Linked DNA regions of Homo sapiens: region 2 is linked to region 1. Evidence: fine-mapped expression QTL. A gene starts in region 1. The other region holds a variant in brackets. All regions are shown on one strand. Distances are between the middles of the regions.

Region 1 (15,701 bases):
GAGCCAAATCATGTTCCACCTCTAACTGCCTGTTCAACCAGAACATCTGAGCTTTGATCAGTTATGTATATATACATTGGAATTCCACGTTTGAAGAGAATCAAAGGCTTAAAGGTAGGATTTTCGCCATCTTGACCCCAGGATGATTAGTCATTCTTTAGTAAGGTCTACTTTTTTGTAGGTGGTTGAGACAAGTGTGAGTAATTTGGGAGGCAGGCAAGGCCCCTCTGCTGGGTTTCCCCAACTGCTGAGCCTATTCTGTTTCTGGGTAAATGTTCTGCCAGAGTTCACACTTGTGGTGAGAGACCAACTCAAATCTAAAGCAGTTTCAGGATGGGGAAAGGAAACCACCTTGAATAACTGCTACTCCTTCCACTTTGCCCTAGAAAAGAAAGCCACCAGCCTTTCCCAACCCCTTGGGCTATGAATAAGAGGAGTTCATATTCTATTTCAGAAAAGTTGCCACTGTAGTACATAAAGAGGTGAATCAGTGAATGAAAGACAAATTCTGTGTTTTTGTTTTGTTTTTTGTTTTTTTTTTGAGACAGAGCTTCACTCTGTCCCCCAAGGGTAGAGTGCAGCAAGTGTGGCGGTGCAATCATAGCCCACTGCAGCCTGGACTCCTCGCCTCAAGCAATCCTTCCACCTCAGCCTTCTGAGTAGTTGAGATTATAGGCGTCAAGCCACTGTGCCCCACTACATCTTGGTCTTTTCTGTATCTTAGTTACATGCTTGCCTTCTCACCCACAAAACACATCAGGAGTAAAAAGCAAAAAAATCAGTCAACAACACGACATATACACATAAATAAGACATCTTCTCTTTTGGATGGTTAGGAAGATCTTTAAAGACACTCAAAAATATTAAGTGTGTTTTCCTTACCTGAAGAAAGGAAATGGAAGAGAACTGTCACTACTCACATTTACTTGTGATCATTTTCCACTTTTAAGGAGTTATATAACACAAGCAGCTAATTCCCCAACTGACCTCTTGCATTTCTATTCTCCTTCCACATTGTAAACTTTGGTCATGAATATACCCATAGCATATTGTACTACGCTGTTTCTGTGCTCCATCCAGGCAGCTGATATAATAGAAACCTTAAATATCATAAATCCAGCAGTGTTAGAATTTGAATTTTGTATTTTTCCATAAGCTGGAAGGCTAAATGCAACAGGATAAACAAGACAGTCTCACTGGTTAAACCCAAAGGTCCCCAGTACATGTTCTCCATTTTGCTGGATGTTAGAACTTGGTGAAATTTTCTATGTGATCTTGCAAGAGCTAAAAGATTTCACTGTCAAAGACCACACCCATGAGTCTCAGTTTTGCCTTACTTCCTTTTTTTCTCCAGTAATACTTCTTTCTCTGAGACTATTTATCAAATGTTATGGGTTTAAGTGCACAACTAAACAGTATAACACCAAAAGGGAAAGCAGGCATGTGATGTTCTACTCCTCTGAGGTGAACGTAAACATGGCACTGCTCAGTTGGCTGTGCTGAACTGAGTAATCTTTAAGGGGTATCCTCTCCTCTGACTAGGGGCAATGTTAGAATCTGAAGATGGGGGAGGAAGGATATACAATTTTGAAATAGTTAATATTAAAAATCTATTACATAAATCATATAAAGAAGGACTTTGCATAATATTCACAGATGAGGGAACTAGAAGAGAAAGTCTGTAGTCAGTATGGTGAGGTGTAGAGGAGGAGTAGGACTGTATGGGAAGGAACATGTATTACAATCCTCTAGGATTTGTGAGATTTTAATGTTTATCAGAAAGGAAATATGGATTTTTAAAGGTTGAGAAACAACAATCTCAAGGGAAAGGCATTTCTACTTTTGGGATTCCAAATACTTGAGGTTATGAAACCACATTCCAGTAAATGCCACATAATAAATGGTTGTGAATAGTAAAACCACTTAAATCTCTCACAATAACAGTTGATTTGCTGATTCCAAAAATCCTTCTTCAAGCAATTAAAAAAAATCCTTTATTTTGAAAGAATCTAAGTCTCTAACTTCTGTCCCTTATAGCAAGTCACTCTCTGGAAAAACTATTACCTGATTGGGTTGTTTCGCTGTTCAATAGAACAATTCTCATACTGCAACTATTTCAAAGACTCTCATAAGTTCAACTTGCTAAGTAACCATCAAAATGGAACTCATATTAATTTTCTTTGTCTACTCAATTTCCAGTAATTCCTTACTGCAATGACTTAAAATACTTTGTTGTCAATGTTAGCAACCTATTTTCAGTAGACCCTTCCTTTTGCAAAAAAAAAAAAAAAAAAAAAGTATTGGTGTTAAGTAAAAGCTATTATAGATCACTAGTACTCAAAATGTTTACTCTCATAACTTACTACTGATAATTACCATTTATAGAGAATATATCTCTGAAGGTAAAAAGTTACTGTCCAGGAAATTTTCCATGAGACAAACAATTGCCATCATTTACTTCCCAAACTCTTTTCCTTAAGAAAAATACGTCCCTTTAAAAATGTTTTTCTTGGTTGCATAGCAATGTGAATGCACTTAACATTATTGAACCATATACTTTAAAAAAAGGTTAAGATGGTAAATTTTATGTTATGTGAATTTTACCACAATTTAAAAAGCTTTTATAGATTAGGAATTGGAAAATGTGACACATGTACTACATAAGTCCCAAAGCCTGTTTTCAGTTGCATAGGGCTTGGTACCAGTTACCCTCAACTTATTTGAACAGTGACCAAATACTGCACTTAGTTCAAAAGACTTTGAAAATTAATTAACAACTCACTGAAAAGGTAGTTCATTTCATATTCTGTTATCCCTTCCTGAAGATAATCATAATCTTGGTTCCGAACTATAAAGCGATTTTTGTTACATATCTAAATAATAGCCTCCTCTTTCCCTGTATTTATGATTCAAAACCATGGCAGCAAGCATAGGAGATAACAGGTGGGAAATGGCAGCCACAGCATAAATCCTACAGGAAATAGAAACTAAAACTAGGCTTTACGTAACTGAACACAAACGAACTGCAATTAAACAGTAATATTTTATGCTTATAAGGTGTTAGAAAACAAAAAGGATAAACAGTAACAGTCAATCAGCTAATGCATAGCATCGAAATAGCGAAGCTTTATGTCAACAGTCTATTTTTATTTACCATTTGCTTTTGGACAAAGGTATGGTTTTAAAAAACATGCAGTCTTCTTTCATCATAGGGCAACTCCCCAATTATTTTTGCTATAGTAGCCCATAAATGGAAATAAAATACCCACGCATTCACATAATGCCTGCATCCTACTGTTAGTAACGCTTCAGTGTCTGTAGGTATCCTCCACAGTTCATAGATGCAAACTGCTAAATTACATTACCTGTCTCAGGTCATATTCTTGAAGGTGATCAAAAAGCATTTGAAATAATCATTTATAAAAGTCTATCAAAGATTACACTATTATCGAGGTATTAACAGTAAACCATTAGTCAAGTAAAAAGGTGGGCTTCTGTTAGATGACAGCACTGCCCCATGTGCGTGCACATACCATGCACATACCTGAACTATGCTAATGATTTTCACTTCATGTTAAATAAGTATAAGCATGTTAAGCTTGTATATTTTTTCACCCACTCATTTTGAAACCCTCTGTAGGATTTGGCTACAGTAAAATGTCAGCTTGGTTATTACCTTTAAATTAAGAAATTTCCCGGCAAAATTGGGAAGCTAGTGACAATAAAGTGAAACTGATGCTTTCCCAGTTGAGTTTCACTCTTGGTTTCTTTCAGGGCATAGACAAATTTGCCCATGTAGAAGCAATACCCTTGCTTCTGTAACATAACTGAAGAAGAGAAGAGAAAGAATAGCAAGACATTTTACTTAACAGCCTCAGCCTACCTACAGCATTTTTCCTTGTCCATGAAAAAAAAGTTGTGTGTAGGGGGGAAATAACCAGCATCAGTACAGCAGCTGTTCTTAGTTCTTGACATTACCGTGTCCCAGACTCTTTCATTCAATTGTATTTACTCCAAGGAGTTTTTGTTTGTTCTGAACCATTTTGCTGAGTATTGTTGCTGTCTTAAGAACAATGAACTCCCAGACCCACATGGTTTCATGAGTGAATTCTTTCAGATCTTCAAAGAGCAGAGTTCTTAGGCTATTTAAACTACATCAGAGCGGAGGAAGAGGAACTCTGCCCAGTTCTTTTTAGGAACCAGCATAACCTTGATACCAAAACCTAGCAAAAATAACAGAAAAAGGTGAGTATAAAATGAATCTCAATCATTGATTTTAAATAAAAATGCTACCAAAGGAACCAATATATACTTAAATATTACACCATGACCAAGCGTAAGATTGGTTCACAAACTGCAAATATACTAAAGTAATTCACTATCCTGTTAGGTCAAAGATGAAAAGTACCTATGAAAGGTTATGATAGATGTCAAAAAGCCATTTGACAAAATCCAACTTCCATTCCTGATAAAAATGTTAAGAAGTAATGAATATACACACCAAATGAACATCCAATATCTATTATTTAAAATTGTTCTCAAAGTGCTATCTAATACAATAGACACTCCCCATCCCCAGTTGCAAAAATGACTTTGGATGCAATCCAAACAGTTCTCTGCAAAAATCACAATGAGCTAGAAATATTAAAGGAAACTTCCCTGATAAATATAATTTATTAGATATTAATAGTAACTTCATATTTAATGATGACATAATAAAAACATCCCCAAACTAAGAAACAAGATAAAGGATGGCCAGAATCACTGTTTTATTTACCACTATTCTGGGGAAGCCAGCAATTCACTAAAGCAAAGAAAGAAAGAGATAAGATGAATTATAATTAGATGATTGTTTTCCTAGAAAATTCAAGTGAAACAATTTATTAAAATTAATAAATTTAGAAAGTTGGCCAGATACATAAACACTCATCTACATACCAGTCACAAAATATAAGAAAATATAATGGTTAAATCCCAAAAAGAGTATTTTAATGAAGCATGAACAGTTTATGTTAAATTTTATCTCAAAGATAATGCAATTATATTCAAGAAAATTTTGAAAAGGAAAAATGAAGAGGGACTTGTCCTATGAATTACTAGAAAACGTAATATCAAAGCAGATTGGTATTTTTAAAGGAAGAGACAAAAAGATCAAAGCAACAGATGAGTCTAAAGAAAAGATGCATGTACACTTGAGAATTTACTATATTAAGGAGGTATTTCTAGTCAGTTGGGAGAGAAATGATTTCAACAAATGATTTCAGGAAAAAATGGCTGCCTAGTCATAAAAACAAAGAAAAAAATTAAATCCTTATCTTAGCATACAAAAATCATTTTCAGATGTTTTAATGAGTAAATCATAAAAAGAGAATTAACAGGCAATATAGGAGAAGATTTTAAGAATTTTTGAGTGGGGACTACCTTCTTACCTGAGATAAAAAGCCTGGGCATTTTAAACCAAAGCATTGATAATTCTTGAAAATATTTGCCATATATTTCACAAAGGATTAATGAAATCTGTAGTCTAATGAGAAACAGATAATTTTGAAGAATACTGGGCAATATATACGGACAGGACATAGTAAGTGACAGTTAACTATAATTTGGTACATCTACACAATGCAGTACCACGCCAACATTACAATAAAATAGAGCTACATATGGCAAGACTTTCACCATATATATATATTTAATCTGAAACAGATTATCGAACAGTATGCATAATCTCATTTTCATAAGAAAGCAAAATAACATGGTTATGCACATACAGGAAAGATGTGGAAGGCTTGGATTACAACTGGGGAGAGGACTGAGAAGGATTTCACTTCCTGCTTTGCACATAGTTGTATTATTTGAGGATCCCTCCTCTCTCAAATGAGGACACAATAATTTTTAACAGAATGCACTGCTTGCTTCTCTGCTACCTCTCGTTTGGGTGTGTATTCCAACCGCGGTAAGAAGGCAGGTCATTTTCTTTTCCTTCAATTTCACGTCGCTTCTTCACTTCCTTTACTACCATCTCTCCCTTATTATAACTTGTCAAAAGCATCTCCTGTGAGGTGAGATAAACACCACTTTACATAGCAAGGCTGCTTTACTTTTGCTCGTTATAGCATAACAATAAAGGCACAGCTCTTCTTTGATTATCCTCCCCCTTTCTACTTCTAGAAAAGCACAGCTTTTTTGCCTGTAACTCGTTGCTAGTCAGTTTACACCGGCGTGAGGACTCTACCTAACGCCTGGGTTCCCACTGTGGGCGGGGTTGGCTTCTGTTCTTCCTGCCTTGGCCACCCACTCCCTCCGTGACCCTCTGGGAAGTTACCCAACTTCTCATTGACCAGGCTATGATGACACCCCACAGGAAGGCAGAGGGGAATTGTGCAACCACCTTGGGAAAACAACAGAAAGAACCAATTAAGTTTTCGAAAGAGTAACCACGATACTACTTGATTCTAGGAGGCAGTCTCTCTCCCGAAGGGAAGTCGGGAATGTTCCTGGAGGGTCCACTGCTCACCTCGACACCGCAGGCCCTTCCACCCCCATTTCCCGGGCAAAGCAGCCGGGACGAGTCCCTCCCTTGAAGCCGTTGGGGCAGAGGCCGACGATGCTATGCTGACATCGCGGGCCCGGAAACCAACCCACAAGGAGTCCGCTCCGGGGGAAGGACTCGCGTGGTTTCTCCCGCACAAAATCCCTCCCCAAACTGCAAATTGGTTGTCTCCGCTGCTCCTCGGCTTCTCTCCCTGCGGCGCCCCTACTGTCAGCGCGTCCCTCTCGCTCACGCATACAAATTCTCCGACGTCGTGCTTGACGGATTCGGACACACCAATTCACAAAGTTTCTTACTCACACAGTTCACGCTTTCAGCTGCGTTCCCTCTCCCCTCAGGTCGCCGGCGCCTGGCCGAGTGACTCCAACCGGAAGTTGCATTTTGTTCCAGTTCAGAGGGCAGTGCCTGCGCGCGGAGCCATTAACTCTTCACCTCCACCCAACAAGGCCAGGGCCCTTCCGCCCTGCCCCACCCAGCCCAGGGCTCTTCTGCCCCGCCCCTGCCCGCCCCGCCTAGCGCCCTCCCCCAGCCCTGCCCAGCCAAGTCCCCGCCTCTTAGAAAAAAAAAGCGTCAGCAGCGGAAGAGAATCCTATGTCAAGTGTAAAGGTCACTTGTGAGTCTTTGCTGGATTTTTTTGCCAAACGATAAATAACCGGTAAATAAATAACCAGTAAATAAATAACATCACCCTATATATGAGTTAGAGTACACAAGAATCACCTGAGAAACAAAATGTAGTTTCACCAACCGACTCCTACAGCTTTCATTTCAGAGCAACTGGAGTGAAGCCCAGGAACCTGCATTTTCAACAGATCCTCGTAAATTTATGTAATTAAACGTGGTTAAAGTCCACACTCTGAGAAACACTACATATACACATACCCATTTGGTTTCTCCCCAACTGGTAGTATTTTTCACTAAATGTATTTGTTAAAGAGGAATGGCTGGAAATGGAGGTGGAACTTTATTAGAAAATTTCCCATGAATTAAGACTTTCCCATTATTCCAATTCCTAGCCATGCATGAATATTATCTAAGATTCATATCTTAGATACCGCAAGAAAGATATCTTTTCCCTTTAGGGCAAGAGGATGAGGTCTGGCTGCCCCAATTTCTCCCTGTATTTCTGAATCATGGATGTTTACACATCTTTCCTTAGGCCAGTAAGTCCAAGGATTTAAAAACCTGCCAAGTTGCAGTGCATTCTGTCTAGTTATCTTGAATGTTGCTGTATACTTTTAAAAGTCAAAGCCTAAATATATTTGAAACAATGTTTTTAACAAACAGAAACTTCTTATATATAACGTTTTGACCAGTTGAATAGTTTTCTTGTAATAAGTAATTGAGTTAAACATCACAATACAGTACTGCTTTAAAAAAATTATTTAAACTTTTTTTGAGGGCAGTTTTAGATTCACAGCAAAATGGAAAGGAATGTCCAGAGATTTTCCATATACTTTCTGCCCCGACACAAGCATAGCCCTTCCCCATTATCAACATCCCTCACCCCAGTGTGATGAAAAAAAGCTGTTATAAATATCTGTGTGCAGGTTTTTTTGTGCGGACATAAGTTTTCATCTCCTTTGGATAAATACCAAGTAGTATGATTGCTGGATCATAAGGTAAGAGAATGTTTAGTTTTGTAAGCAATTGCCAAATTGTCTTCCAAAGTGGCTACCATTTTGCATTCCCACCAGGAATGAATAAGAGTTCCTGTTGCTCCAAATCCTTGCCAGCATTTGGTGTTGTAAGTGTTCTGGATTTTGGCCATTCTAATAGATGTGTGTCATATTTTATTGTTGTTTTAATTTGCATTTCCCTGATGACATATGACGTGGAGGATCTTTTCATATGGCTATTTATTTACCATCTGGTTAACTTCTTTGGGGAGGTAAAGGCCTTTGGCCCATTTTTTAATCAGGTTGTTTTCCAAATGTTGAGTTTTAAGTGTTCTTTGTATTTTTGATAAGTCCTTTATCAGATATGTCTTTTGCAAAAAATTTTCTCCTTGTCTGTGGCTTGTCTTTTTACTCTCTTGACAATATCTATTGCAAAGCAGAAATTCTTAATTTTGATGAAGTCCAGTTTATTCAGCACTGCTTGAGCAAATTAAATAAGCTGATTTGAAGATTTCTGATTGAAATAGTGGAATTTAGTAATATACTCAGAGTCTAAAGCTGAATGCATAGGCATTTTGAAATATGGAGGTGCTAAAAACTTTGAATAAGGAAATAGCTAGATATACACATTTCTTAAATGCGTATTTTTCTCTTTCCACTTCCATGATGTTGTAGTCTTGAAGAGAAGTGGCTGCATAATTCCCCTGTATGTGAAATATGCATAAATGCTGGTAGAATTATTTTGTAATCAATGCTAAAATGGCATCAAACATTTTCCTTTTCCTATAATGATGATTTTTTAAGAATTCACATACAGTATGTTTTACAAAGGTTAGAAATTGAGTTGACATTTATTTGAGGAATAATCTTTTAAAATAATGACATAATTTTATTCCAATTTTCCTTCACTCATATTATTATATACCTCAAGTTAGTGAGCAGTGATGTGGCTTTGGAGGTTGGGTATGGTGGCATGAAAATGGGGAACTGACCAGGTGTGGTGCTCACACATATAATCCTAACACTTTGGGAGGCCAAGGGCAGAGGATCACTTGAGCACAGGAGTTTCAGACCAGCCTGGGCAACATAGTGAGACCACGTCTCTATTTAATAATATTAATTAATGAATTATTATTAAAAGAAAATGAGGGAATTGCAGGCCTTTAAAAGATATTTTGGAACCTGGACGGGTGCAGTGGCTCACGCCTGTAATCCCAGCACTTCGGGAGGCCAAGGCGGGCTGATCACTTGAGGTCAGGAGTTTGAGACCAGCCTGGCCAACATGGTGAAAACCCGTTTCTGCTGAAAATACAAAAATTAGCCAGGTTTGGTGGTGCACACCTGTAATCCCAGCTATATGGGAGGCTGAGGCAGGAGGATCACTTGAACCCGGAAGGCAGAAATTTCAGTGAGCCAAGATCACGCCACTGCACTCCAGCCTGGGCAACAGAGAGAGACTCTGTCTCAAAAATATTTTGAATCCTAGTTTTAAAACTGCTTAATAATTTATTGAGACTTCTGAATATAAACCTAAGGACAAGGAAACCTGGCAATATAAACAGTTACTATGACTTGGAATGTCAGTTATGTTCTCAGTCAAATCTTTGATGTGCAATATCACTATTAATGGAATCTGGTTGACTTCTGATTTACGATGACATCTGGACTGGCTGATTATATTGCAGACTCTCCAACTAAAATGGCTATGAAAAATCAGAAAAACATGAGAACTCACAATGGCCTTGGAAGGCAGACTGACAACCAGGGCCACTGTGTATGGTTGAGCAGGCTGTGCTCAGTTGCAAAGCCTTGCCTCCTTCAGCCTGTGTCTTCTCAGAGAGGTGCTTTTTCTAACTCACAGAAAAGTACCATAAGAGCAGCTATAACCCTGTTGACAAGCACCCTAGTTCCAGAATTTGATAGGATACTGGACTTATTGCAAGAACTGTGAAGCTGAAATGGACATGTACTTTTTTGTTGGAAGGCAATCAAAGGTGTTGGTATGGAAGGATAGTAAGGAAGCTACCTGCCTCACGGCCCCTACTAGTAATTCCACTACTATGTGTGATGGCTAAGAAGTATTTTACACCTCTTTGCCCTAATCTCTCCCATTAGTTTCTCCACTCTATGACCCATTTTGGAGCTACGGCCTAGAGAATACCAGCAATAACCCAAAGGGAGTGGATAGGTGTAATGCTCTGTGTCCAAGCTTAGGAAACTAATAATGAAAGGGGTTGGGCAGACAGAACTGGGTGTTTGTTTCTCTGGGGGTTTACTTTTTCATATATGGTTCTTATCAAGAAAAAGACAAATCATTGTTTCTGATTAACCAGGAATTCTTCTCTTTATAGTAAAATAACTAGCTATTAAAGGTAAGGAATCTCACCTCAGCCCAACACCCGCAGTGACAAAGTTGATAAATGTCAGCTTCAAACCAAAAAGTTAGCTGTTGACTGTGCATGTCTATATGTCTTCCAGTTCAACATCTATGCTGAAGAACTTAATAGCATCAGACAGATAATGAGAAGAGCCAAGAACCAAAATCCACACATTCAGGTAGTAAGGTTGACACAAGGCTTGGAACGAGTAATTCAAGAGAAAGCATCCCTTTGAAAAGATTATGCTGTCTGAAAGAGAGTCTTCAAAATACAAAGAAAGTGAATACTTTGGAAAATTATTTACCAGAAGCAGAAGTATATGGAGAGAATCTGCTTTGTATTTTCTATGCAAAAAGAGATGAAATACATGATAAGCTATTAGACTAAGATAAGGAGGGAACTAGAGACAAGGTGAAATAAAACCAAAGTTGGATAAGTTAAGTCTGTAAGGACACAGAACAACATGCAATGGCAAAATTCACATATAATTTGGACATAATCAAAGATGGAATCAGTATTGCAGAATAATAAATCAATGATTAGAGTAAAAGCTTGAAAAACTCTTCCAAAATATGACTGGAAAGTACAAATAGGTGACAACCATTAAAGGAAATGGTAGAAAGATTATGCCCCAACTTCTTCCTGAAGAAGAAATTGGGGTAAATAGAACAGAGACGGCAACCACAGATATATCAGAAGCTATCTGAAGTAATACTTTGAACCAATACAATACTTTGTAAAAATGAAAAGGACTCAATGTGTTTTGAAATATATTAATGACCTATCTTGTTAAAAATTTCAATATTAAATGCCCTATCAAGTCATTAATTTAATCAGTGAATATTTTGGGAATATTTGCTATGTGCTAAGAATTAGGGATAGAAAGATCACTAAGACACTGTCCTACCTTTAAAGAACTTGGTGTCTATACTGGGTGACATACATACAAGAATCAGGCAATTACTATACAATGTGGTATTATGATTTTTACATTAGGGGTAATATATGGTACTCTGAAAACACATTGGAAAGTCCATCATCCAGCCTTGAGAGGGTGAAGGAAGGCTTCTGGTATCTAAGTTATGGAAAAAGTTCGACAAGAATCCAGGTGGAAAAAAAATTAATTGCAAAGGAAGAAAAACTTGTCTTCAGCAGTAAACTTCAAAAGCTGAATAGAATAACATCTACAGTTGCCTGGGAAAGATTTGACCTATAGTGTCTGCCTACTCAAGTTATCATTTATTCAAGAAAAGGAAAACAAAGACATTCTCAGATACCTCAAGGTTCAAACATCATACCACCCATTTTCTGAAACAATTGAAGATATGCTTCCCTTATTCGAGAAGGAGTCAAAATTAAAAACTCAAGAAAGGTGAAATTTTGATATAAAATAAATATTAGGAAACATTTGAAATAATTTAAACATAAATTAAAAACATGTTGCAACTACAAAGCAATGGAAAAATGTAATTTTTGACACATAAGATATAAATTATTACCTAATAAATAATTTAATAATAATAATATGGTCACAACTTTCTGATTACAGCAACAAATATGCAAGTGGGTGGGAGAGAGGTGGCAGGAAGTAAATGTGTTCTGCTATTTTACTCATTTTCTAATCTATATATAGAAATAAGAAAATTACAGGATCTCATTCTAATAATTGAAGATGTATCATTTTAGTTTTTTTAATATGAAGATAAATAACTACAAGTAGAATTTAAAAGTGTACGCTTGTTTTTGGCTGCACATTGTAGCTCACACCTGTAATCCCATCACTTTGAGAGGCCAAGGCAGGCAGATCACTTGAGGCCAGGAGTTCGAGACCAGCCTGGCCAACATGGAGAAAATTCATCTCTACTAAAAGTACAAAAATTAGCCAGGTGTTGTGGTACACGTCTGTAATCCCAGCTACTCAGGAAGCTGAGGCACAAGAATCATTTGCACCTGGGAGGCGGAGGTTGCAGTGACCTGAGATGGCACCACTGTACTCCAGCCTGGGCAACAGAGTGAGACTCTGTCTCAAAAAAAAAAAAAAAGTGTATGCTTAATTTTTATGTTAATAGAGGAAGAAAGAAATTAAAACATTGTCCACATAATAAAGATTTAAATATCTTAATTCCCAACATTCAATCAGTCACCCAATCAGGTACATCATGTGAGTACTCCTCTGCAGTATTTCTTGCATGCTTACACTCTATGTCCCCATTGCTACTATCTATCTCCATTCCTACCCGTTGTTCAAGCCACCATCAACTCATAGTTTCAATGCTAACCTCCTAATTGTTTGCCTCACTTTCTCCCTTGTCAGATTCTATGTTGTTATGTTTCTTTACCACCTACAACTATTAAATGTCTTCCCCTCACCTTTAGAATAAAATCCAAAATCTTAATCCTGGAATAAGGCATCTTCCTAACTCTCCAGACTTATGTCCTGCTGCTTCTTCCTGGTGATTTTGGGCTTCTTTTAATACCTTAAGTGATCACTCTTTTGTCCTTTTCAGGTATTTGCTGCTTTCCTCAGCCTAGAACATGTTTTCCTCATATTTTACCTGGTCTGTTGAGTCCTCTACTGAATGATCTGATTCTAAGCTAGGCCACACTTGATTTCCTTTCTAGGTTAAGACTGTGGGCTTAGCTGTGGGCTCCTATTTTACCCTGTCCTTTCCTCTTTATGACATGCATTATGCTTGAAATTTCAAGATACATATTTGAATGTTTTTAAGCTTAGGATGGCCATTATGACTGATATTAGAGAAACTTATACTCACTAGGCAGAGTCCTAGGTTATCATTGCCCCCACGAAGGCAAACTACAGCTGAGAGAAGCTAAAGCATGATGATTGTAAGTGAGAGTTCTGTGTTAAAGTTGCCTCGTTCATATGTTGGTATTGCCATTTACTAATCATATGACTTTACTAATCCTGTGCCTCAGTTTCTTTTCCTGTCAAAGGTCGAGTGTACTTGTCCAACAAAATAATGTATGAACAAGATCTGGCCTACAGGAGGACTGCAGTAAATATTGGGTAATATAGAAAATTCCTGTAACTTAGTAGGTGGTTCTACATGCAGTTGATTTTTTTTTTTTTTTTTTTTTTTTGAGACAGGGCCTCACTGTTGTCACCCAGGCTGGAGTGCAGGGCAGGATCTTGGCTCATTGCAGCCTTGACTTCCTGGGCTCATGTGATTCTACCACCTTATGCTCCTGAGTAGCTGGGACTACAGACGTGCACCATCATGCCTGGCTAATTTTTGTATTTTTTGTAGAGACAGGGTTTCACCATGTTGCCCAGGCTGGTATTAAACTCCTGAGCTCAAGAGATCCATCTGCCTCTGCTTCCCAAAGTGCTGGGATTACAGGTGTGAATAGGGATCACACCCAGCCTGATTTTTAATTTAAATAAAAAGTCATAATTATCACTTAAAATGTCTTTAAAAGTTCATACTGAGAAGGCCTCTATATTGGACTTAATAGAAAAAGACTTTCAATCAGTTGCCTTAAATATGCCCGAAGAACTAAAGAAAACCATGGACAAAGAACTAAAAGAAATCAGGAAAATGATTTATGAACAAAAGGAGAATATAAAAACATGATATAAATTATAAAACAGAACCAAATAGTAATTCTGGAGCTGAATGGCACAATAACAAATGGAAAATTAATTATAGGGGTTCAATAGCAGATTTCAGCAAGCAGAAGAAAGAGTCAGAGAATGTGATAAGATAGTTAACATCAAGCTTACCTTCTATGCATTGTGGGAGTCTTGAAGGAGAAATGAGAGAAATGAAGCAGAAAAAATATTTCAAGAAATAATGGCTGAAAACTTCCCAATTTGCTAAAAGTCTGAACCAGCTTATTCAAGTTGCTCAATGAACTCTAAGTAGAATAGACTCAAAAAAATCCACACTGAGGCATTATAATCAAATTATCCTTTAGCTCTTTGGGCATATTTAAGACAATTGACTGAAAGTCTTTTTCTAGTAAGTCCAATATCTAGACCTTCTCAGTGTGAATTTTTAGACATTTTAAGTTATAATTATGGCTAATTATTTAAATTAAAAATCAAATGCATGTAGAATCACCCACTAAATAACAGGAATCATTTATATTACCCAGTATTTATTGAGTTCCTTCTGTAGGCCAGGTCCTGTTCATATATTATTTCATTGTACAGATACTCTCAATTTTTGAGGCAATTTTTGAACTGAGGACAAAGAGAGAATATTGAAAGCAGCAAGAAAGAAGTGACACATTATGTGCAAGGGATCATCAATAAGATTAACAGCCAATTTTGCTTTGAAACTATGAAGGCCAGAAAATAGTAGAATGACATATATAAAGTGCTAGAAAAAAGTGTAAACCAACAATTCTATAAATGGCAAGACTATCCTTCAAAAATAAAGAAGAAATTAAGACATTTTGAGATAAATGAAAGCAGAAGGAGCTTGGTGTTAGTAGACTTACCCTAAAGAAATGATAAAGGGAGTACTTCAGGCTGACTACTAGGAGATAATTTGAGGCCATACAAAGAAATAAAGAACTTCAGTAAAGACAACTACATAGGTAAATATATTAAAGCTAGGATAATTGTATTTTGGTTTGTAACTCCTCTTTTTATTTCCTATATGATTTAAAAGACAAATCCTTAAAAATAATTATCAATCTGGCACACAACTTATAAAGATATAATTTGTGACAACAACACGTAAGGGGTGATTAAGCTGCTTAGTAGTGGAGTGTTTGTATGTTACTGAAACTAAGTTGGTATAAGTTAAAATTAGGTTGTTATAAATTTAGGTTGTTAATTGTAACTCACATGGTAATGACTAAGAAAATATTTTTTAAAAATCACAAAAGAAAATGAGAAGGGAATAAAATGGTATACCACTAAGAATAAGCTAAAATACAAAATAAGACAGTATTGGAAGAAGTGAGAAATAGAAAAATGGTATAGAACATACAGAAATCAAATAGCAAAATGGCAGCCGTAAGACCTTCCTTATCAATAATTACTTTAAATGTAGATGGATTAACCTCTTCAATCAAGAGGCAGAGCTTGGCAGAATGGATAATACAACATGATCAAATGATCAAATCATATGTTATCTGCAAAGGACTTAATTTAGATGCAAAGACCAATAGATTAAAGTG
Region 2 (15,701 bases), 49 kb before region 1:
AGAGAATGTTCAATTAGCAGAAGCAAGAAGGAAAGCAAGGAGATTCACTGTGGCCATTTGGCCGTCTAGCAGACATACGGTCCAGATGTAACTTCTAGAGAATACAGACAAGTCAGTGGCTCCCTATAATATTATTAAGATAAAATGTAGAGGGAAACATGCTGTCTTTAATGTTAAATAGTCAAGAGAAATTAGGAGCAGAAATAACAATGAGTAAATCCATTAAATATGGAATTACTTAGAGGAAACTAAGCTTAAATGCAAAAATCACACTACTATTGACAAACATAACAGGAAAGAGACAATAAAAGATGCTCGTCTTAGAATTATTTGTTTCCAAAAGGGACTTATCAGGGAGGGAGACAAAAACCACAGGTTAATGACAATGCAGAATGTGTGGAAACTGCTATACAATAGTTTTATTAGGATTCTAAGATATATAGCTTAGAGCATAAGTATATAGAAAGATGACTAACTGGCAAAGAAAAAAAATCTTTCAGGAAATAAATCAGCTTTCGTAACATAGCAAGACACTGCTTAACCAAGCAGCAGAGAAGCTCAGAGTGTATAGGTGCAAATGAAAAATTAGGTGACTCTTCCCCCTCCTCTACCCTCAAAATCTAGCAGTATCTTAGAAGGAACTAAGAATCCAGTTAGAGGATGTTAAAATACAATACTGGGAAGAGTGTTAGCTGAAGATCCTGTACTTAAACAAAGCTAAGTGGTTTTCTTAGTATTGATTTCAGATCCCAGATACAGTCTTGCGCCTTTAAAAATTAAAAAAACAGAGTACCTAGTATGCAGCACTTCATAGTCCTAGGGTTTTATGGAACATACTAGAAAATGCAGGTATCTACTATCAAACTATCTTTTAACAAATTAGAGTCAAAATTCAGAGTCTGCTCTAGACTTAATATAGATTAATTTACAAGCATCACGATTTAAAGTATGAAGATATAAGACAATTGATTATCCAATGTATGTGAAAAGAACTGATGAGGAAGCATTAGGACCTCCATGTACAAATAAAGGTTCCTGAGGAGATGCTGGAATATTCTTAGAACATGACATTTTTTCAGGAGGATGAAAAGTAACTTACTAAGAAAAAGGCAATATGATTTTTTTCTAACAGGAAATTATAATCTGGTTAAACCAGTGGTTCTCAAAATATGGTCCAGGATCCTTAAAGGTCCCAAGAGCCTTTCAAGGGATCCACTGTTGGGAGAGGTAATCTGCCATGGCCCCTGAGCATCCTGGCACATTTTTGCTGTTCATGTCAGGAATACAAGAATCTCACTGTTCTTTACCGGAGCCTTTTCTTAGGCTTGTGTTTGCAGAGCAAATTTGAAAGACTAGGTAATGTCTCCCTCTTGGACAAAGAGCAGGCATGCTTACTGCCTGCTATAAAATGGTGGGTTCCCCAAGCTCAATATGCCTCTCCTTTAATGTAACCATTGCATGTATAAGCATCATCTGTGTCTGTGTTACCTCCTAGGCAGGACCAATGAAAATAAGATGTTCTTCGCTACTAACTTTACTGTAAATAATAAAGTCCTTTTTCTCTGATTCACTTTTCTGTTTTCCTCCAGTACCCACCCATGAAACAGTAACTAACTTATTAGCTTGTAAGTAGAATAAAATGAAATCCCAGAGCCTGACATAATTGAAATCAACTATTGTCACAATTAAGATATTATTAATATTTGCATTTTTTACTGTGTTGGCATTTAGACTGATGATGCAAAAACAATGAATAAAACTGCTGGTGCCCGAGTATGACTAAGGCCATATCAAACTGTTGTCACTGTATTCTTTAATGTCACACACTCAGTTAAAAAAAAAAAACCAGCAAAAAAAGGCAGTTTCAACTAAGAATGTCCTTAATAAGGCAGTAAAAGTGATTACTTTTATTGAAACTTGATCTCAACATATTTTTAATATTTTGTGTGACAAAATGGGAAGTATACACAAAAGGACTTCTGCTGCATACTGAAGTACAATTATTGTCTTGGGGAAAAGTACTTGTGCAACTATTTGAGTTGCAAGTAAACTGGTTACTTTTCTAATGGAATGCCATTTTTGCTTGAAAGAATGACTGACACACAAGCTATGGTTATTCAGACATTTTCTCAAAAGCAAATGAAGTTAGCCTGTCATGTTAAGGAAAGCAACAGACAAGATTTGTTGCCAATGATAAAATTTGAGCTTTCAAGTGAAAATTAAAATTTTGGAAGACCTGTACCTGTCACAGTAAGCTTGACAGATGCCCAATACTTGAAAGATTTTTCTGATGCAATCAGTGATGATGTTAAATGTGATTTAAAAATATTATATAATAGGTCAACATTTGCAAGATCTACATAACTTAGTGAACCAATATTTTCCAAATGATTGATTCATGATGTTACAGAATCATACATTAGTAAAAGACATACTCAAAGTACAAGATAGACCAACAGCTTTTAATGTAGCAGAAAAGTTCATTGATACGCTTTCAGATTCCATATTGCAGCTAACATTTTAAGACACTACCAAGTTTTAGTGCAGTATCAAAGACTATCCACAATCGCTAAAAAAGCTATTAAAATACTCTTCCCCTTTTCAAATACAATATCTATTTGAGGCTGAATTTTCATCATACAATTCAACCAAAAAAAAAAAAAATAACAGCAGGTTGAATGTAGAAGCATTTCATAACACTGAAAAAAAAAAAAACCTTCAAAACAGATTTAGAGAAATTTTCTTTTTTTTTTTTTTTTGAGACAAAGTCTCACGCTTGCCCAGGCTGGAGTGCAGTGGTGTGATCTTGGCTCATGCAACCTCCATCTCCTAGGTTCAAGCGATTCTCCTGCCTCAGCCTCCAGAGTAGCTGGGATTACAAGCACCCACCATCATGCCTGGCTAATTTTTGTATTCTTAGTAGAGACAGGGTTTCATCACGTTGGCCAGGTTGGTCTCAAACTCCTGACCTCAAGTGATCCACCCACCTTGGCCTCCCAAAATGTTGAGATTACAGGCGTGAGCCACTGCGCCCAGCCAGATTTTGAGAACTTTTAGGATGACAGGTTATAATAATAAGATAAACTAGATGGTTTGTGGGTGCTATAGTTTGGATACTTGTCGCCTCCAACTCTGATTTTAAAATTTGATCCCCAATGTTGGAGGTGGGGCCTAATGGGAGGGGTCTGGGTCATGGGGGCAGATCCCTCATGAATAGAGAAATCCTGGGGGCTGTGGGGGTAAGGATGGCAGGTGAGTGAGTTCTTACTCTTTTAGCCCCTGAGAAAACTGGTTGTTAAAAAGAGTCTGCCACCTCCCCTCTCTCTCTTGCTTCCTCTCTCATCATGGGATCTTTGCAATGCTGGCTCCTCTTTGCCTTCGGCCATGAGTGGAAGCAGCCTGTGGCCCTTGCCAGATGTCAATGTCCAATCTTGAACTTTTACAGATATCAAAATCATGAGCCAAATAAACCTTTTTTCTTTATAAATCCCCAGCCTCAGGTATTCCTTTACAGCAATACAGACTAAGATGGAGGTGGACAGGGGGCTATTCCTTACCTATCAAGGTTTAGAGAACAGCCTTTCATTCCTTGGCCAAGAGAAATCAGGGCTGGATAGACTCTTATCGACTCTATTCTGTGTGCTTTGAAGACAAGTTTTAAATAAAGAGAAGTGTGAGAAAAGGGATGATAGGGGAAATAAGGAGAGAAAAGCCATACTAGAGACATTCGAATTTGCTTCTAAGTTAGGAAAGACAATTTAGAAGGTGACATATCACTTCTTATTTTCTTTTCTTCCTCAAAATTATTTCCAGTATTTTAACAAAAGCAAAAACTGTAAGATGATGTACTGAATTCAAAAACACAAACCCAGAGCAGGAAAGGGTTAGGATTAATTAATAATTTAGATTGGAAACACAGTTTCTGCAATAGAAAATTTCAATGTAATTATTAAAATGTTTTGGATATCAATATTTGTTTTCTTAAGAGTTTGTGTATCAGCCAGGCACAGTGGCACACACCTGTAATCCTAGCACTATGGGAGGCCGAGGCAGGTGGATCATTTCAGGTCAGGCATTTGAGACTAGCCTGGCCAACATAGTGAAACCCCGTCTCTACTAAAAATACAAAAATTAGCCAGGTGTGGTGGTGTGTGCATGTAATCCCAGCTATTCGGGAGGCTGAGGCAGGAGATTCACTTGAGCCTGGGAGGTGGAGGTTGCAGTGAGCCGAGATGGTGTCACTGCACCCCAGTATGGGTGACAGAATGAGACCCTGTCTCAAAAAAAAAAAAAAAGTTTATGTATTATGACTCTTTGGAAAAAACTGAACTTTTAATGAATAAATTGGTTGAAGATAGTTATTTTCCTTTCTAATTAACATTCTACCAGAAAGTCTATAAAAAAGGCTAGTCTCCAGAGGAGTAATACAGAAGCATTATATATAAAAATAGGGTATATATAATGCAGTTTCTAGAAAGAAAACCAGGAGAAGCGGTACATTTGCTTTGGACTGCAAGGCAAGGAGTACCTGAGGTACTACACACAAACACGTTTTTCTCCAGTTCTCTAAGCCCCAGCCTACATTGGCCTGTGCCATTGTACAGTGTGCATAATCACCATTTCTGTATGATAAAAGATAGAAAAGATTAAACATTAAAGGAATTCAGGGGCAAATTTTTAAAAAGTTGAGTAACAAACACATGCAATTACATTTATTTCAAGTTCCTCTTTTAGAAGAGGTGCTATGTGTTTAGATGATGTAAATGAGATTTGGCTTTTCCATAGAAATCACTTAGTAGCTAAATATGTTGACTAACGGCCTAATTTTTAGCTTTTGTTCAAATGATGAAAAACATATTTATCATTTACCTATAAACCATTTTAAAGCTTTTACAATGAATATAAAACCAGGTACCTGGACAACATACAGCAACTTAACAAACAAATGTGGATTAAGGGACTTGCAACAGAAAGTGTCTGGAGTGTTGAGAGAAGCTACAGGGGCCCAAAACTCAGACGAAGATCCCTAAGTGGGCACTGCACTTGAAGTCCAGTGTATATAAGATATGAACAGTGTAAGGATGGGAATGCCATCTAAGACCTAGACCTGTGAGATTAGGATTTTATTAGCTACAGAAGATCAGAAAGCAAAACAGAGTTCAAGTTCATGTACTGCCTGCCAAAACTGCTATACATAATTGAAGAAGCAGACCATGCGTAAATGCCGCTCACTGAAGGACTGTCTATAGAATAAAGTTAAGAAAAAGGTAGAAAGCACTTTCTCCTCTGAAGCCATGATTATGTCAACTAAAAATGGTTATGGTAAATGAAATGGCTCATTCAAAACCCTCAGTTTTAGCTTTCAGTTTACATACATAATATTCTCTCCCAAGTGACCTAGAATAATTCTGGCTCTTGTCTAGAAATTATCCTTTTTCCATCAAAGTCTTGTAGAAAATTTAACTTTACTTATCTATGCACACATAACCAAGATAAAGGCAAGTAAGAACTTGTCTTCTTTTCTGTATTTGAACTTAAACTTTGGGCCCTTGATCAAGCCTATCTTAAGCTCACTGAGAATTTTAATTTTTAAATTAAGGTCCTAAATGTTTTATCTGTGCCATAAAATTATAGTTAGAATTTCTTTTTTTTTTTTTTTTTTAGACGGAGTTTCACTCTTGTCACCTAGGCTGGAGTGCAGTGGCGTGATCTCAGCTCACTGCAACCTCCGCCTCCCGGGTTCAAGCAATTCTCCTGCTTCAGCCTCTCAAGTGGCTGGGATTACAGGTGCCTGCCACCACGCCCGGCTAATTTTTGTATTTTTAGTAGAGACGGGGTTTCATTTTGTTATATAATTAGGACTTTACATTATTTTATAATGCTTGCTAATTGCTGTAGGTCTCCATATTGTCATTTCCCCAACCAGACTATATCCTTAAAGGGGATAGATGTTGTCTATTACAATACTATTGCTATTGCTGTGTTTTGTTTTTTGTATTTCTGTTAATGACTAGCAAGGCTTGGCAAATAGGAGTTCAATAACTACTTCTTGTGTAAGTGATTGACAAATGACTTTTTAGACAACAGCTTTCTTCAAATATGTCAGAGCTTCTATATTTACTTGAAGTTGTCAGGTACAGCACATCTTACTGCTTGCAATTGCCAGCTCCACAGCTATATCACTGTTTATACTATTCTAAACCTAAAAAATCTTTCTTGTTCCTCAAAGCCACCATATCTGCTGATCTAATCACAATGATAGCTATATTCGAAATCTGCAAACTGTTTAACTGACATCTTTCAGTAACTGCACTCGTCATTTACTTGAGTTTTTGATTAACTCAGATGAAAAATAAAGACATGTTTAAAGAACAAATTAGAAATATATAGACATGAGAACACATAAACTCTATTTAATTAGTGAACTCATACCATGTTCACTTCATATTTTGGATCCTAGAATCTGAAATAACTTTTCAACATTCAATAATGTTAATTATTAAATCAAGACTTTAAGCCAGAAGACAGGGACAACATCTCTTTGCTCTCCAGTGGTTGGCAGTGTTAAGTATACATCATGAATTCAGAATTACTGGATAAATGAAGAAAAATAATTTACCAATATCACCAAATTTTTTGTCTTCTATATTATTGCTTTCTACATATTTTCTTGCATCAAACCACCGGAGAATTTTGTATAATTCTCCACAGGAACAAAAAGTAGCATAGAAAGATGAGGGCAAACAATTTCTGTCAAAACCTAGACACTCAAGATAGTATTTAGTTTGGCAACCAAACTATTTCCCAGAAGCAAATTATAAAAATCTCATTTCTGAGATTATATAAGTGACACAGTACATTACAATCCTGGTTTTTAAAAAAGTGAATTAAACTGACAATTTATAGTTTTGTATTTTTATAGAATGTCTTTATATTTGTTACACAAATACAAAACTTGTTATTTAAATAGTAACTGCTAACATGGACATAAGTTACTATGTCTGAAAATGGTGTTCTGTAAACAAGAGATGAATAGTCTTTGTCAAGAATAATTGTGTGCATTTTTGTTATCTGATTTCCTATCTGCATTTTCAGTTTTTAACATTATAAAAAAGAATTAGTAATATGCAACAATTTCTTAGTTCTCTAAGCATTGCTATTATTCTCCTCTGGAAAGTATATTCATATTAGAATTTTTGAAATTGTTCTTCAGATGACAGGCTATGATATTTTTTCCCTTTAGGATTAATAATCACATAATTCAGGAATTTAATTCACTATTAAGTGAATATTAAGTTCCCTTACGTTTCATCAATATTTGTCATAAGGTAAATTAAGTATCAGCCCCCTTGTCTCTTGATCTTTCACATCCTCTTCTGTACACCACAATCTACAATACCTGTGTTGCTTTTAAAATATATCTATGAAACTTAGATACTTTTCCCTTCAAGGGGTGCAGCTTAATTTCTTGCCCCACTACTTAGTGACTTGCTTCTAATGAACAAAATTAAGTGGAAGTGAAGGAATGTGACTTTGAGACTACGTCACAGAGGGCACCTTTCTCTCTCTCAGATCCCTTACTTTGAGTGAAGTTAGCTATCAGTTTGTGCAGAGAGGCTCATATGGAAAGGCCTCCTGCCAACAGTCATGTGAGTGACTCATCTTGGAAGTGGATCCTCCAACCAGTTAAGCCTTCGGATGACTGCAGTCCTTGTCCACATCCTGACTTCAACATAAGAGACCCTGAGTCAGGGCCACCCAGGTAAGTCACTGGGTGAATTTCTGACCCATAGAAACTCAGGTAAATTTGTCGTTCTAAGCCCTAAGTTTTGGGGTAAGTCTGGAATAATATGATAGATAATGCAAAGGACTGTGCAAATTACTGTGGTGTACAAAAGACAAAACTAAGGTTTTCCATTAAACTGAGTATTTCCTTCCCTACTGTCTCAAGCAGAGTACTAAGGGTCATCTAATGATAGAGGCTTTGTCTTTACCTCTTTCTGTCCCTTTAGAAGTCAAAGGATTTTTGCATTCTTTTTGTGTAGGAATAACATGAATAGAGACTGAACTATAAATTTCATGTTTCTTAAGTAAAATTTTCTAAAAGGGCCTCTTTCCCCTTCAAATATCCCTCTTGCCTCTACTTTGTGTCTCTTTTTTCCAAGGCAGCCAGAGTGGCTATTTGCCAAAATGTCCACAAGTCTTTCCCTTCTCAAACATCCTGACAAAACAAAATCCTAAACAAAACAAATTGTCTAAAGAAAACAAATCCTCAAACCACCCACCAAACAGAAGGAGGAAAGCACTGTGGGTGGCTCGTAGTGGCTTCCTTCTGTTACTGGTTCAAAGCATTTCTATTAACTTACTAATTCATTATAGAAGCTAGGCCAATTGATTGGGAATGTGATTTCTAGAAATAGGTTAGTTTTGCAGAAGACCATTAAAGTATATTAAAAATAGAATAAAAAAGAATCATACCATCACCTTAACCATTTCTCTATAATGCCTTCCAGTTCTCATCCATGTGGGTGCATACTTTTAAAAAACTGCAACAGACATGGATTTTTTTCATTGTGGAAGAAGCTTGAATATAACCATATATTCAGAGTTCTTTAGGAAAGGTTTCACCTGTATTAGCTAAAGGTGAATTATAACTCACTAAGTATAGATCAACACATAGGCCAATGGAACATATTTTAATTTCCATTGCTTGATGGGCCAGTATTTTTTCTAACATAGGCCTAATTTTTTACACTAAGCACACAGCCAACTCTCAAATATTCAATAAATCTAATTTATCCATTCTTTTACAATATATTTTCTCTTTTCTTTAATCCCTTATACGTTTAGTGCTCATTAGCACTTTGGCTAGAGATACATAAAAAAAGAGAAAGCTGAACTGCAAGACAGTTAATTTTTATTTTTATTAAATGGTTACAAAGAAAATTGAGTTGATGAACTATTCAAAGTATAAAAATGTGGCTAAAACATAAACCTTTCCCCTATTAGTAAAGATAATTAAGAGAACTCGCTGAAGTTAGGTTTATTCCTTACTTGGAGCTTTTCCTCTTACCGTCTGCCCAAAAATATAGTTATAATTGATGTAATATTATTCACTCTTTGCACACAGGCTATCTCTGAAATGATTTCTGTTACTTAAACTTAATTTCATCCCAGGTATCCAAATATATATTTCACAGATAAAATACTTAGCTTACAGAATTTAAACAAATATAATTTTTAAAAAGATTTCCATTGAAGGTCTGCTTTTGATACTTATTGACTGAAAATAAACTCTAAAACTTGCATAAATAACAAATTATCCAAATTAAAAAAAACAAAACTATTACTATATCTTAGAACTTTTCACATCATCCCTTTTGTTCTAACCAAGGTTTTATTTTCAAAACTACCTTCTACATACTTTAAACTGGAGATATTCTATTACTTTCAAAGGAATGCTATAAATTATTATTAAATTTGCAGTTAAGTAATGGCATTTGGAAGACATTGAAAGAGGAAGATTAGAAATATTGTTTATTTAAGCACTAAATTTATGTCAGTATAGTAATTCAACAATTTTATAATGTACTACAATAGGCCTAGTAAAAAAATTGCATTCCAAAAAGTCAGAATCATTGTTTCTCAATTTCCTCTTTTGCAAAATAAACCTAGTATATTTCATTGCCATGGTTTCTGTGTTTATCAGCATTTTTAGATAAATGAAAATTCGAATGGGGGTGAAGAAAACTGAATGACTCAAAGAATGGTTTAAAATAAAAATATATGTACTAAGGGGTACCAAGAGAACTTCTTATTCTAAAATTTTTATTTATAGAAAAAAGCTCTCAAAATTGGATTTCTCAGATTTGATGTTAAATAGTAAGATAGTCTTAGTTATGCAATCAGTAACTGAATAACCCTAACAAAGTGAAAATCTCCTACTTTATTTAGAAGGAAAGAAATAAATATAGCACTCTTGATTTAATTGTTCTTGTTGATGTTAAGAAACCTTATTTGCTAGGAGTTCGTATTTTATTCAAAATATGTATCGTCCCACTAAAAGCCAACTCATCTCATTAAAAATATCCTTTTCAAACTTATAAAATTTCAATGACTTATGAAAACATGGAGAACAATATAATATACATACATATACTACTGAGTTAACAAGTGTTAACATTTTGCATACTTGCTTGGCTCTCTTCTATTAAAAAAAAAAGTTGCAGATATAACTGCTGAAGCCCTCATTATTCCTTTTTCAGATATCACAGTCTCTTTTCTCCCCAATTCTAGAGGTGATCGTTTTTCTAAAGAAGATGTGTGCCCTTCCTGTACAGGTTTTTATACTTTTATTACATATTTGTGTTTTCACAAACATTAATGTTATGTTTTAAAAACTACATAAAGTATCCTAATTAGCCACGCATGGCAGCATGCGCCTGTAGAATTGCTTGAACCCAGGAGGTGGAGGTTGCAGTGAGCAGAGATTGCACCACTGCACTCCAGCCTGGGTGACAGAGCAAGACTTCATTTCCAAAAAAAATCCAAAAACAAAACAAAACAAAACCAACAACAACAACAAACTACATAAAGTATTCCCATTTTATCATTTTGTAATTTCCATCTTTACTCAACATTGCTATTGAAATTTAGGCAAATTAATATATATTTAGTATATTTTAATTTTTCTAAAGAGTTTCTAAAGATGGACTATTCTATTATTGGTGGATATTTAGGTTGTTTCTAACCCATGGCATGAACGTCCTTGTATATGTCTCCTTGCAGATATGTACTATTTCTTTCTGTATTACTTCAATAGAGTCTTGCTTAAGCTAGTTGGGTGTATTTTTCTTTTAAACTAAGCACAGACTATTGAAGAAAAAGCTAGAAAGCTATTATCTAATCTGTGTCTTATTATTTACCTGATTTTAATCTTTTATTTCATTGTTTATATATATACACACACACACCACACACACACATATATGTACATATGTATGTGGCATTCATTCATTAATTCATTTATTTATTTATTTAGAGATAGGGTCTCACTCTGTTACCCAAACTGGAATGCAGTGTCATGATCATGGGTCACTGCAGCAGCCTTGACTTCTTAGGCCCAAACAATCCTCCTACTGAGTAACTGGGACTGCAGGCGTGTGCCATTCTGCGTGGCTAATTTTTTCATTTTTTATAGAGATAGGGATCCCCCTATGTTGCCCAGGCTGGTCTCAAACTGCTGAGCTCAAGTGATCCTCCCTCCTTGGCCTCCCAAAGTGTTTGAATTACAGGAGTGAGTCA[G/C]TGTGTCCAGCCCTATTTCTTTGTTAAATGTTTTCTTTGTTGAAATGCTTGTGATGTAGAAAAACGGTCAGTAGGAAATACAAAACCTCAGCCTTTATTTTACTTGAAAATAGTTCTTCTATTTAGAAATATTTAAGCCACATATTTGTATATATGGAACTTCTGTTTGGAATTCCAGCAGATCACTTCAGAAAAATAAAATGAGGAAGCTATGTCACGCATCAGCATTTAAATGCTGCTTTCTGCAGAAGCAATGTCTACCTTTGGTAGTTTTTCTCTTGCTATTCCTGAAATCACTTTATCTTGTGGCTGATCAAGAGTCAAATTATTCTTTCTTGTTTCACTGTCTTCAAGCAGAGGAACACAGCCATAATTGTTATCTGCAAGACAAAAACCTCTTGGACATTAGCAGAAAACCCTTATTTTTGGTACCACCTGAAAAAGCAAAAAATAATACAAACTCAAAACCATAAAGAGAATACATTTTAAGGTAGGAGTTTTAGAAAATTCTTTAGGTAATAGTTACTTTGACAAGTTGTCCATTTATATTTTTTCCTTCCCACTAAACAAACACACAAAACCCCTGCTCTCCAAAAGCCAGCAGTATGTAAAATATGCAGAATTTAGAAAACTAGAAATATGCTCTTTGCATCTGTCAGCAACAATTCAACTTTTATATTCACATTTTCAGGTATGCGTTTCTTATTTAAGATAATTATTTGTATTATGACTCCATGCTTATTATGGGAAAATTAGAAAATGCAGACAGCCAAAAAGAATAAAAAGTAAATGCTACCCAAATTTTTATCACCTGTGAATTATTCCAGTTAATATTTTGGTTTATATATTCTATCAGAATTCTTCTTTTCCTATACATATAACTTCACACAAGAATCACCTTTTTCTGCATAAATGAAAAAAACACTTATTTATGTATCCTGCTTTGTTCATTTTGCTATATATCGTCCACATATTCTTACAAGTTAATACCTATTATCATCACTTTTCTTGGCTACATAGCTATTCATATAGATCAGTGTAACTACTGAATATTTGTTTCTAGCTTTCCATGATTAGACATTATACTGTGATACACATCCTCGCATATATATTTTTGAGTACCTGAACAAATATTTTCTTATGATATAGTCTTAGGACTTGAGTTTTTGGTTCAAAAGGCATAGATGTTTTCAAAAGCTTTTGCTGCTATTTACTGGCAAATTGCTTTTTAGGAAGTTTTATAAACTTAGAGTTCTACCATATAGTATAGTATATGTGAAAGTCCACTTTCCCATATCCTGCAAGTGTTCATTTAAATAAACATAACATATAACTGTACCACAGTTATAATATCAAAACTATTGAGAAACAACGAAGGAATAAAATAGAAAAACTCAACTTACACCTTTCTTTTCACCAAGAGGTTCTAGAAATACATAAAAAATTAACATGAACATACCTTGAGTGGAATTCACAAGAAGTAACTGAGATTTTAGCTTGTCAATAATAGTCTGTTGAAGTGACAGCTGTTCCTGTTGTTCACGTATTCTCTGCTCATAGTTCTCAGTCTGCTGACATAAAAACCAGTTAGCCTGATATTCACTGATAGACATGAACATATATTTACCATCCATTGATAATATAAATAGATATGAGTTGCCCACATTGTCATTTTGCAGGTATTGTGATTTATGAGATACAAACTGGCTCCAGGAATGTACTTGTAATTGTTACAAACATCAGTGATTCAAGACACTTAAAGCACCGCAGAAGTTTTAAAGATTAACTTATTTAAAGACATTTCAGTCAAGGATTCAATCTATGATTTCCTGATCCTTCAGTAAGGATCAAAACTGTAATTTAGCATTTATTCCTTAATGGAAAAAAAAAAGCACAAATGATACAACAGATGCTATATTAAAGTGATTCTTTAAAAATACATACTAACTTAAAAAATTAAGATTTTGTGTCTTTCAAATAAACACACTTCTAAATTTATTTTTAGAGTACACAAACACTAAGGAAGTGTTGATACAAATCAAAGGGACAAATGCAAATTATAAAATTATACTGACCAGAAACTTCTCCACTAAGTTTTAAGAAATTAAGAGAATATAGTTGACCTTTGGTGTCTTAAATGCCAGTTTCCCTTATATTGTTAATCCATTAATTTTGCTATGTTATTGCAGTGACTGTGAGAATAAAGCAATGAAAAAAGACACAAGTTTGTACTGAGGAATACAGATGCTGCAAACATTCAAGCAAATTTGAAACTGTTGTATCACAATTACCAAATTAGTACAGTCTTAAAAGCGTATCACCAAACAATAGCAGAGAACTCTTTTTTTAACCAATTTCTATCCCTGGAGGGATAAATAAATAATGACTAAGTTGCAAATTCCTTGAAATATAAAATGAAAATGAAGTTCTAATAATCTCAGAATGATCTTCAGTAGATACTAGATATTTCACTTTAAACTGATTCTTAAAGTTCAAAATTAGTGAAGCTCTATTATTTTCAGAGACCAATAAACTTAAAAATTTTAATAAATTACATAGCTGTTCATAGATTAGCAAATATAAATTAGCTTAAGAAATTAAAGCTTGGGAGGCTGAGGTAGGTGGATCACGAGGTCAGGAGATTGAGACCATCCTGGTTAACACAGTGAAACCCCATCTCCACTAAAAATACAAAAAATTAGCCAGGCGTGGTGGCAGGCACCTGTAGTCCCAGCTACTTGGGAGGCTGAGGCAGGAGAATGATGTGAACCCGGGAGGCGGAGCTTGCAGTGAGCCAAGATCACACCACTGCACTCCAGCCTGGGCAACAGATCCAGACTCTGTCTCAAAAAAAAAAAAAAAAAAAAAAAAAGAAATTAGAGCTAAATACTACATTTTCCCAAATGAAAGGTGAACTTTTATAAGTAATACACTCCAAATATGAATAACTGACAAAGCTGATAAGCAACCCATGTGGTACATTGTCTTTGCACATTGCCTAAAGGCAGTCTTACATAGTTTCACATTCCCCACAGAATTCATATGGATTAAGTAACTTATACATAGGAGATGTTCAGTATATGTTCACTGAAAAATTAAAAAAGGAAATACGGATTCCAATTACATTTTATTATTGTGAACAGAAGAATGAATCATGTAGGTCTACCTGAAGTGCATGTCCAATGAATACGTCTCAGAACTGATCACTGATACCCAAGTCTAGTCTAGGGCCTGGCTTCCCAGGATAAGACATCTTATTCCTGTATAAATTCACACCCAACCCCCTAGAAACAGTGTGGTAAGCTGACTGAATGAAGGATCCAAAAATCTACAGCAAATTCTAAATACCTTAGATTTACTTGGGCTACAGAGCACCACCAGGGCTGAAGAATCAGCAAACAAGTTACAGTCTTCTCTATATATTTCTGCGCTAATTAAAGCTTTCTCCAAGAACTCAAAGTTCTTCACAAACATCAATCAATAAGTACCTATTTTTTTCACTTTATTTTGATAGGTATATACATTATACTGTCCAGAGATTAAGTAACCAGTCCAAAAAACTTAGCAAGTTAGAGACAGGCGCAGAATAAATGCCTATGTTATTTAAGTCTCTATGTCTTTTTTTCCCACCTTAATGAAGAAACCATATATTTTCTTTTGAAACCAACTCAGAAAGCTTCTGCCAGTTAATTTTTATCTTCTATTCTCTGGCTTAAAAAACATACTTTAGCACATCTGCATATAAGATATTACAATAAATAAATAATCCTGAAAATGTATTCAATAGCTAAGAAAAATTAATGGATCAATGGCTATTTCAAATTGAAGTTTTAACTACTTCTTAAGCTACTTAATAAAGTATTATAAAGGTCGAGCAAAGTCTACAATAATTTTAAAAACCAACACTCTGGAAGTATAGTAAGGGAAACAGAACAGCAAGAGTCCATGTTTTCCTCCTACACTTTTCACATACTTGTATTTAGCAGTTATAATATTCTAGTCTAATTGTCTAATGTCTGATTTCCCTCTAGACTGAACTCCTCAAGGGTAGAGAGTATTTCCTCCTGATATCTCCAGAGTATTACAGAGTGCCTGGCACATATTAGGATGCTCAGTAAATATTAGTTGAATAAACAAACTAATTAACTTGTTAAAGAAATATCAGAGTTGAGCAACCCATGCTGCTGCTCTGCCTCTGGAGTAGCCATTCTTTTATTCCTTTACTTTCTTAATAAACTTGCTTTCACTTAAAAAAAAAAAAAGAAATATCAGAGGAACAGATATGCTTTCAGAAATGATCTGAAGGAATGGAGGAATGCTTTTGCTTATATTTCTCTAGAAACACTAAAAACAGAAACAAGGTCAGTAGGTAAATACGACAAAGGGAAACTAAGTTT

Alleles and levels. Alleles are on the strand shown, and positions count from the first base shown. SD is a standard deviation of normalised expression in the study named.
With allele G in place of C in region 2, the expression in testis of the gene that starts at base 7,047 in region 1 is lower (moderate effect, 0.54 SD a copy in GTEx).

What was found. PIP is the estimated chance that this variant, and not a neighbour inherited with it, causes the effect.
Region 2: its variant is fine-mapped to the expression of TANK-AS1 in testis (GTEx, PIP 0.95).

Annotation. Positions count from the first base shown.
Region 1 is chr2:161,151,636-161,167,336 of GRCh38, reverse strand. TANK-AS1 (TANK antisense RNA 1) reads left to right here and starts at 7,047. Exons shown (of 3, transcript NR_187173.1): 1 at 7,047-7,205; 2 at 8,101-8,172. TANK (TRAF family member associated NFKB activator) reads right to left here and starts at 6,909. Exons shown (of 8, transcript NM_001199135.3): 1 at 6,851-6,909. RefSeq lists enhancers at 65-114, 95-264, 175-564, 575-624, 6,436-7,199 and 1 more and a cis regulatory region at 179.
Region 2 is chr2:161,200,658-161,216,358 of GRCh38, reverse strand. It overlaps TANK (TRAF family member associated NFKB activator), which reads right to left. Exons shown (of 8, transcript NM_001199135.3): 3 at 12,764-12,872; 4 at 11,566-11,684. Among named protein-coding and RNA genes, the nearest start is that of LINC01806, 36 kb to the left of the region's middle. The variant G/C (reference allele first, on the strand shown) is at 11,305.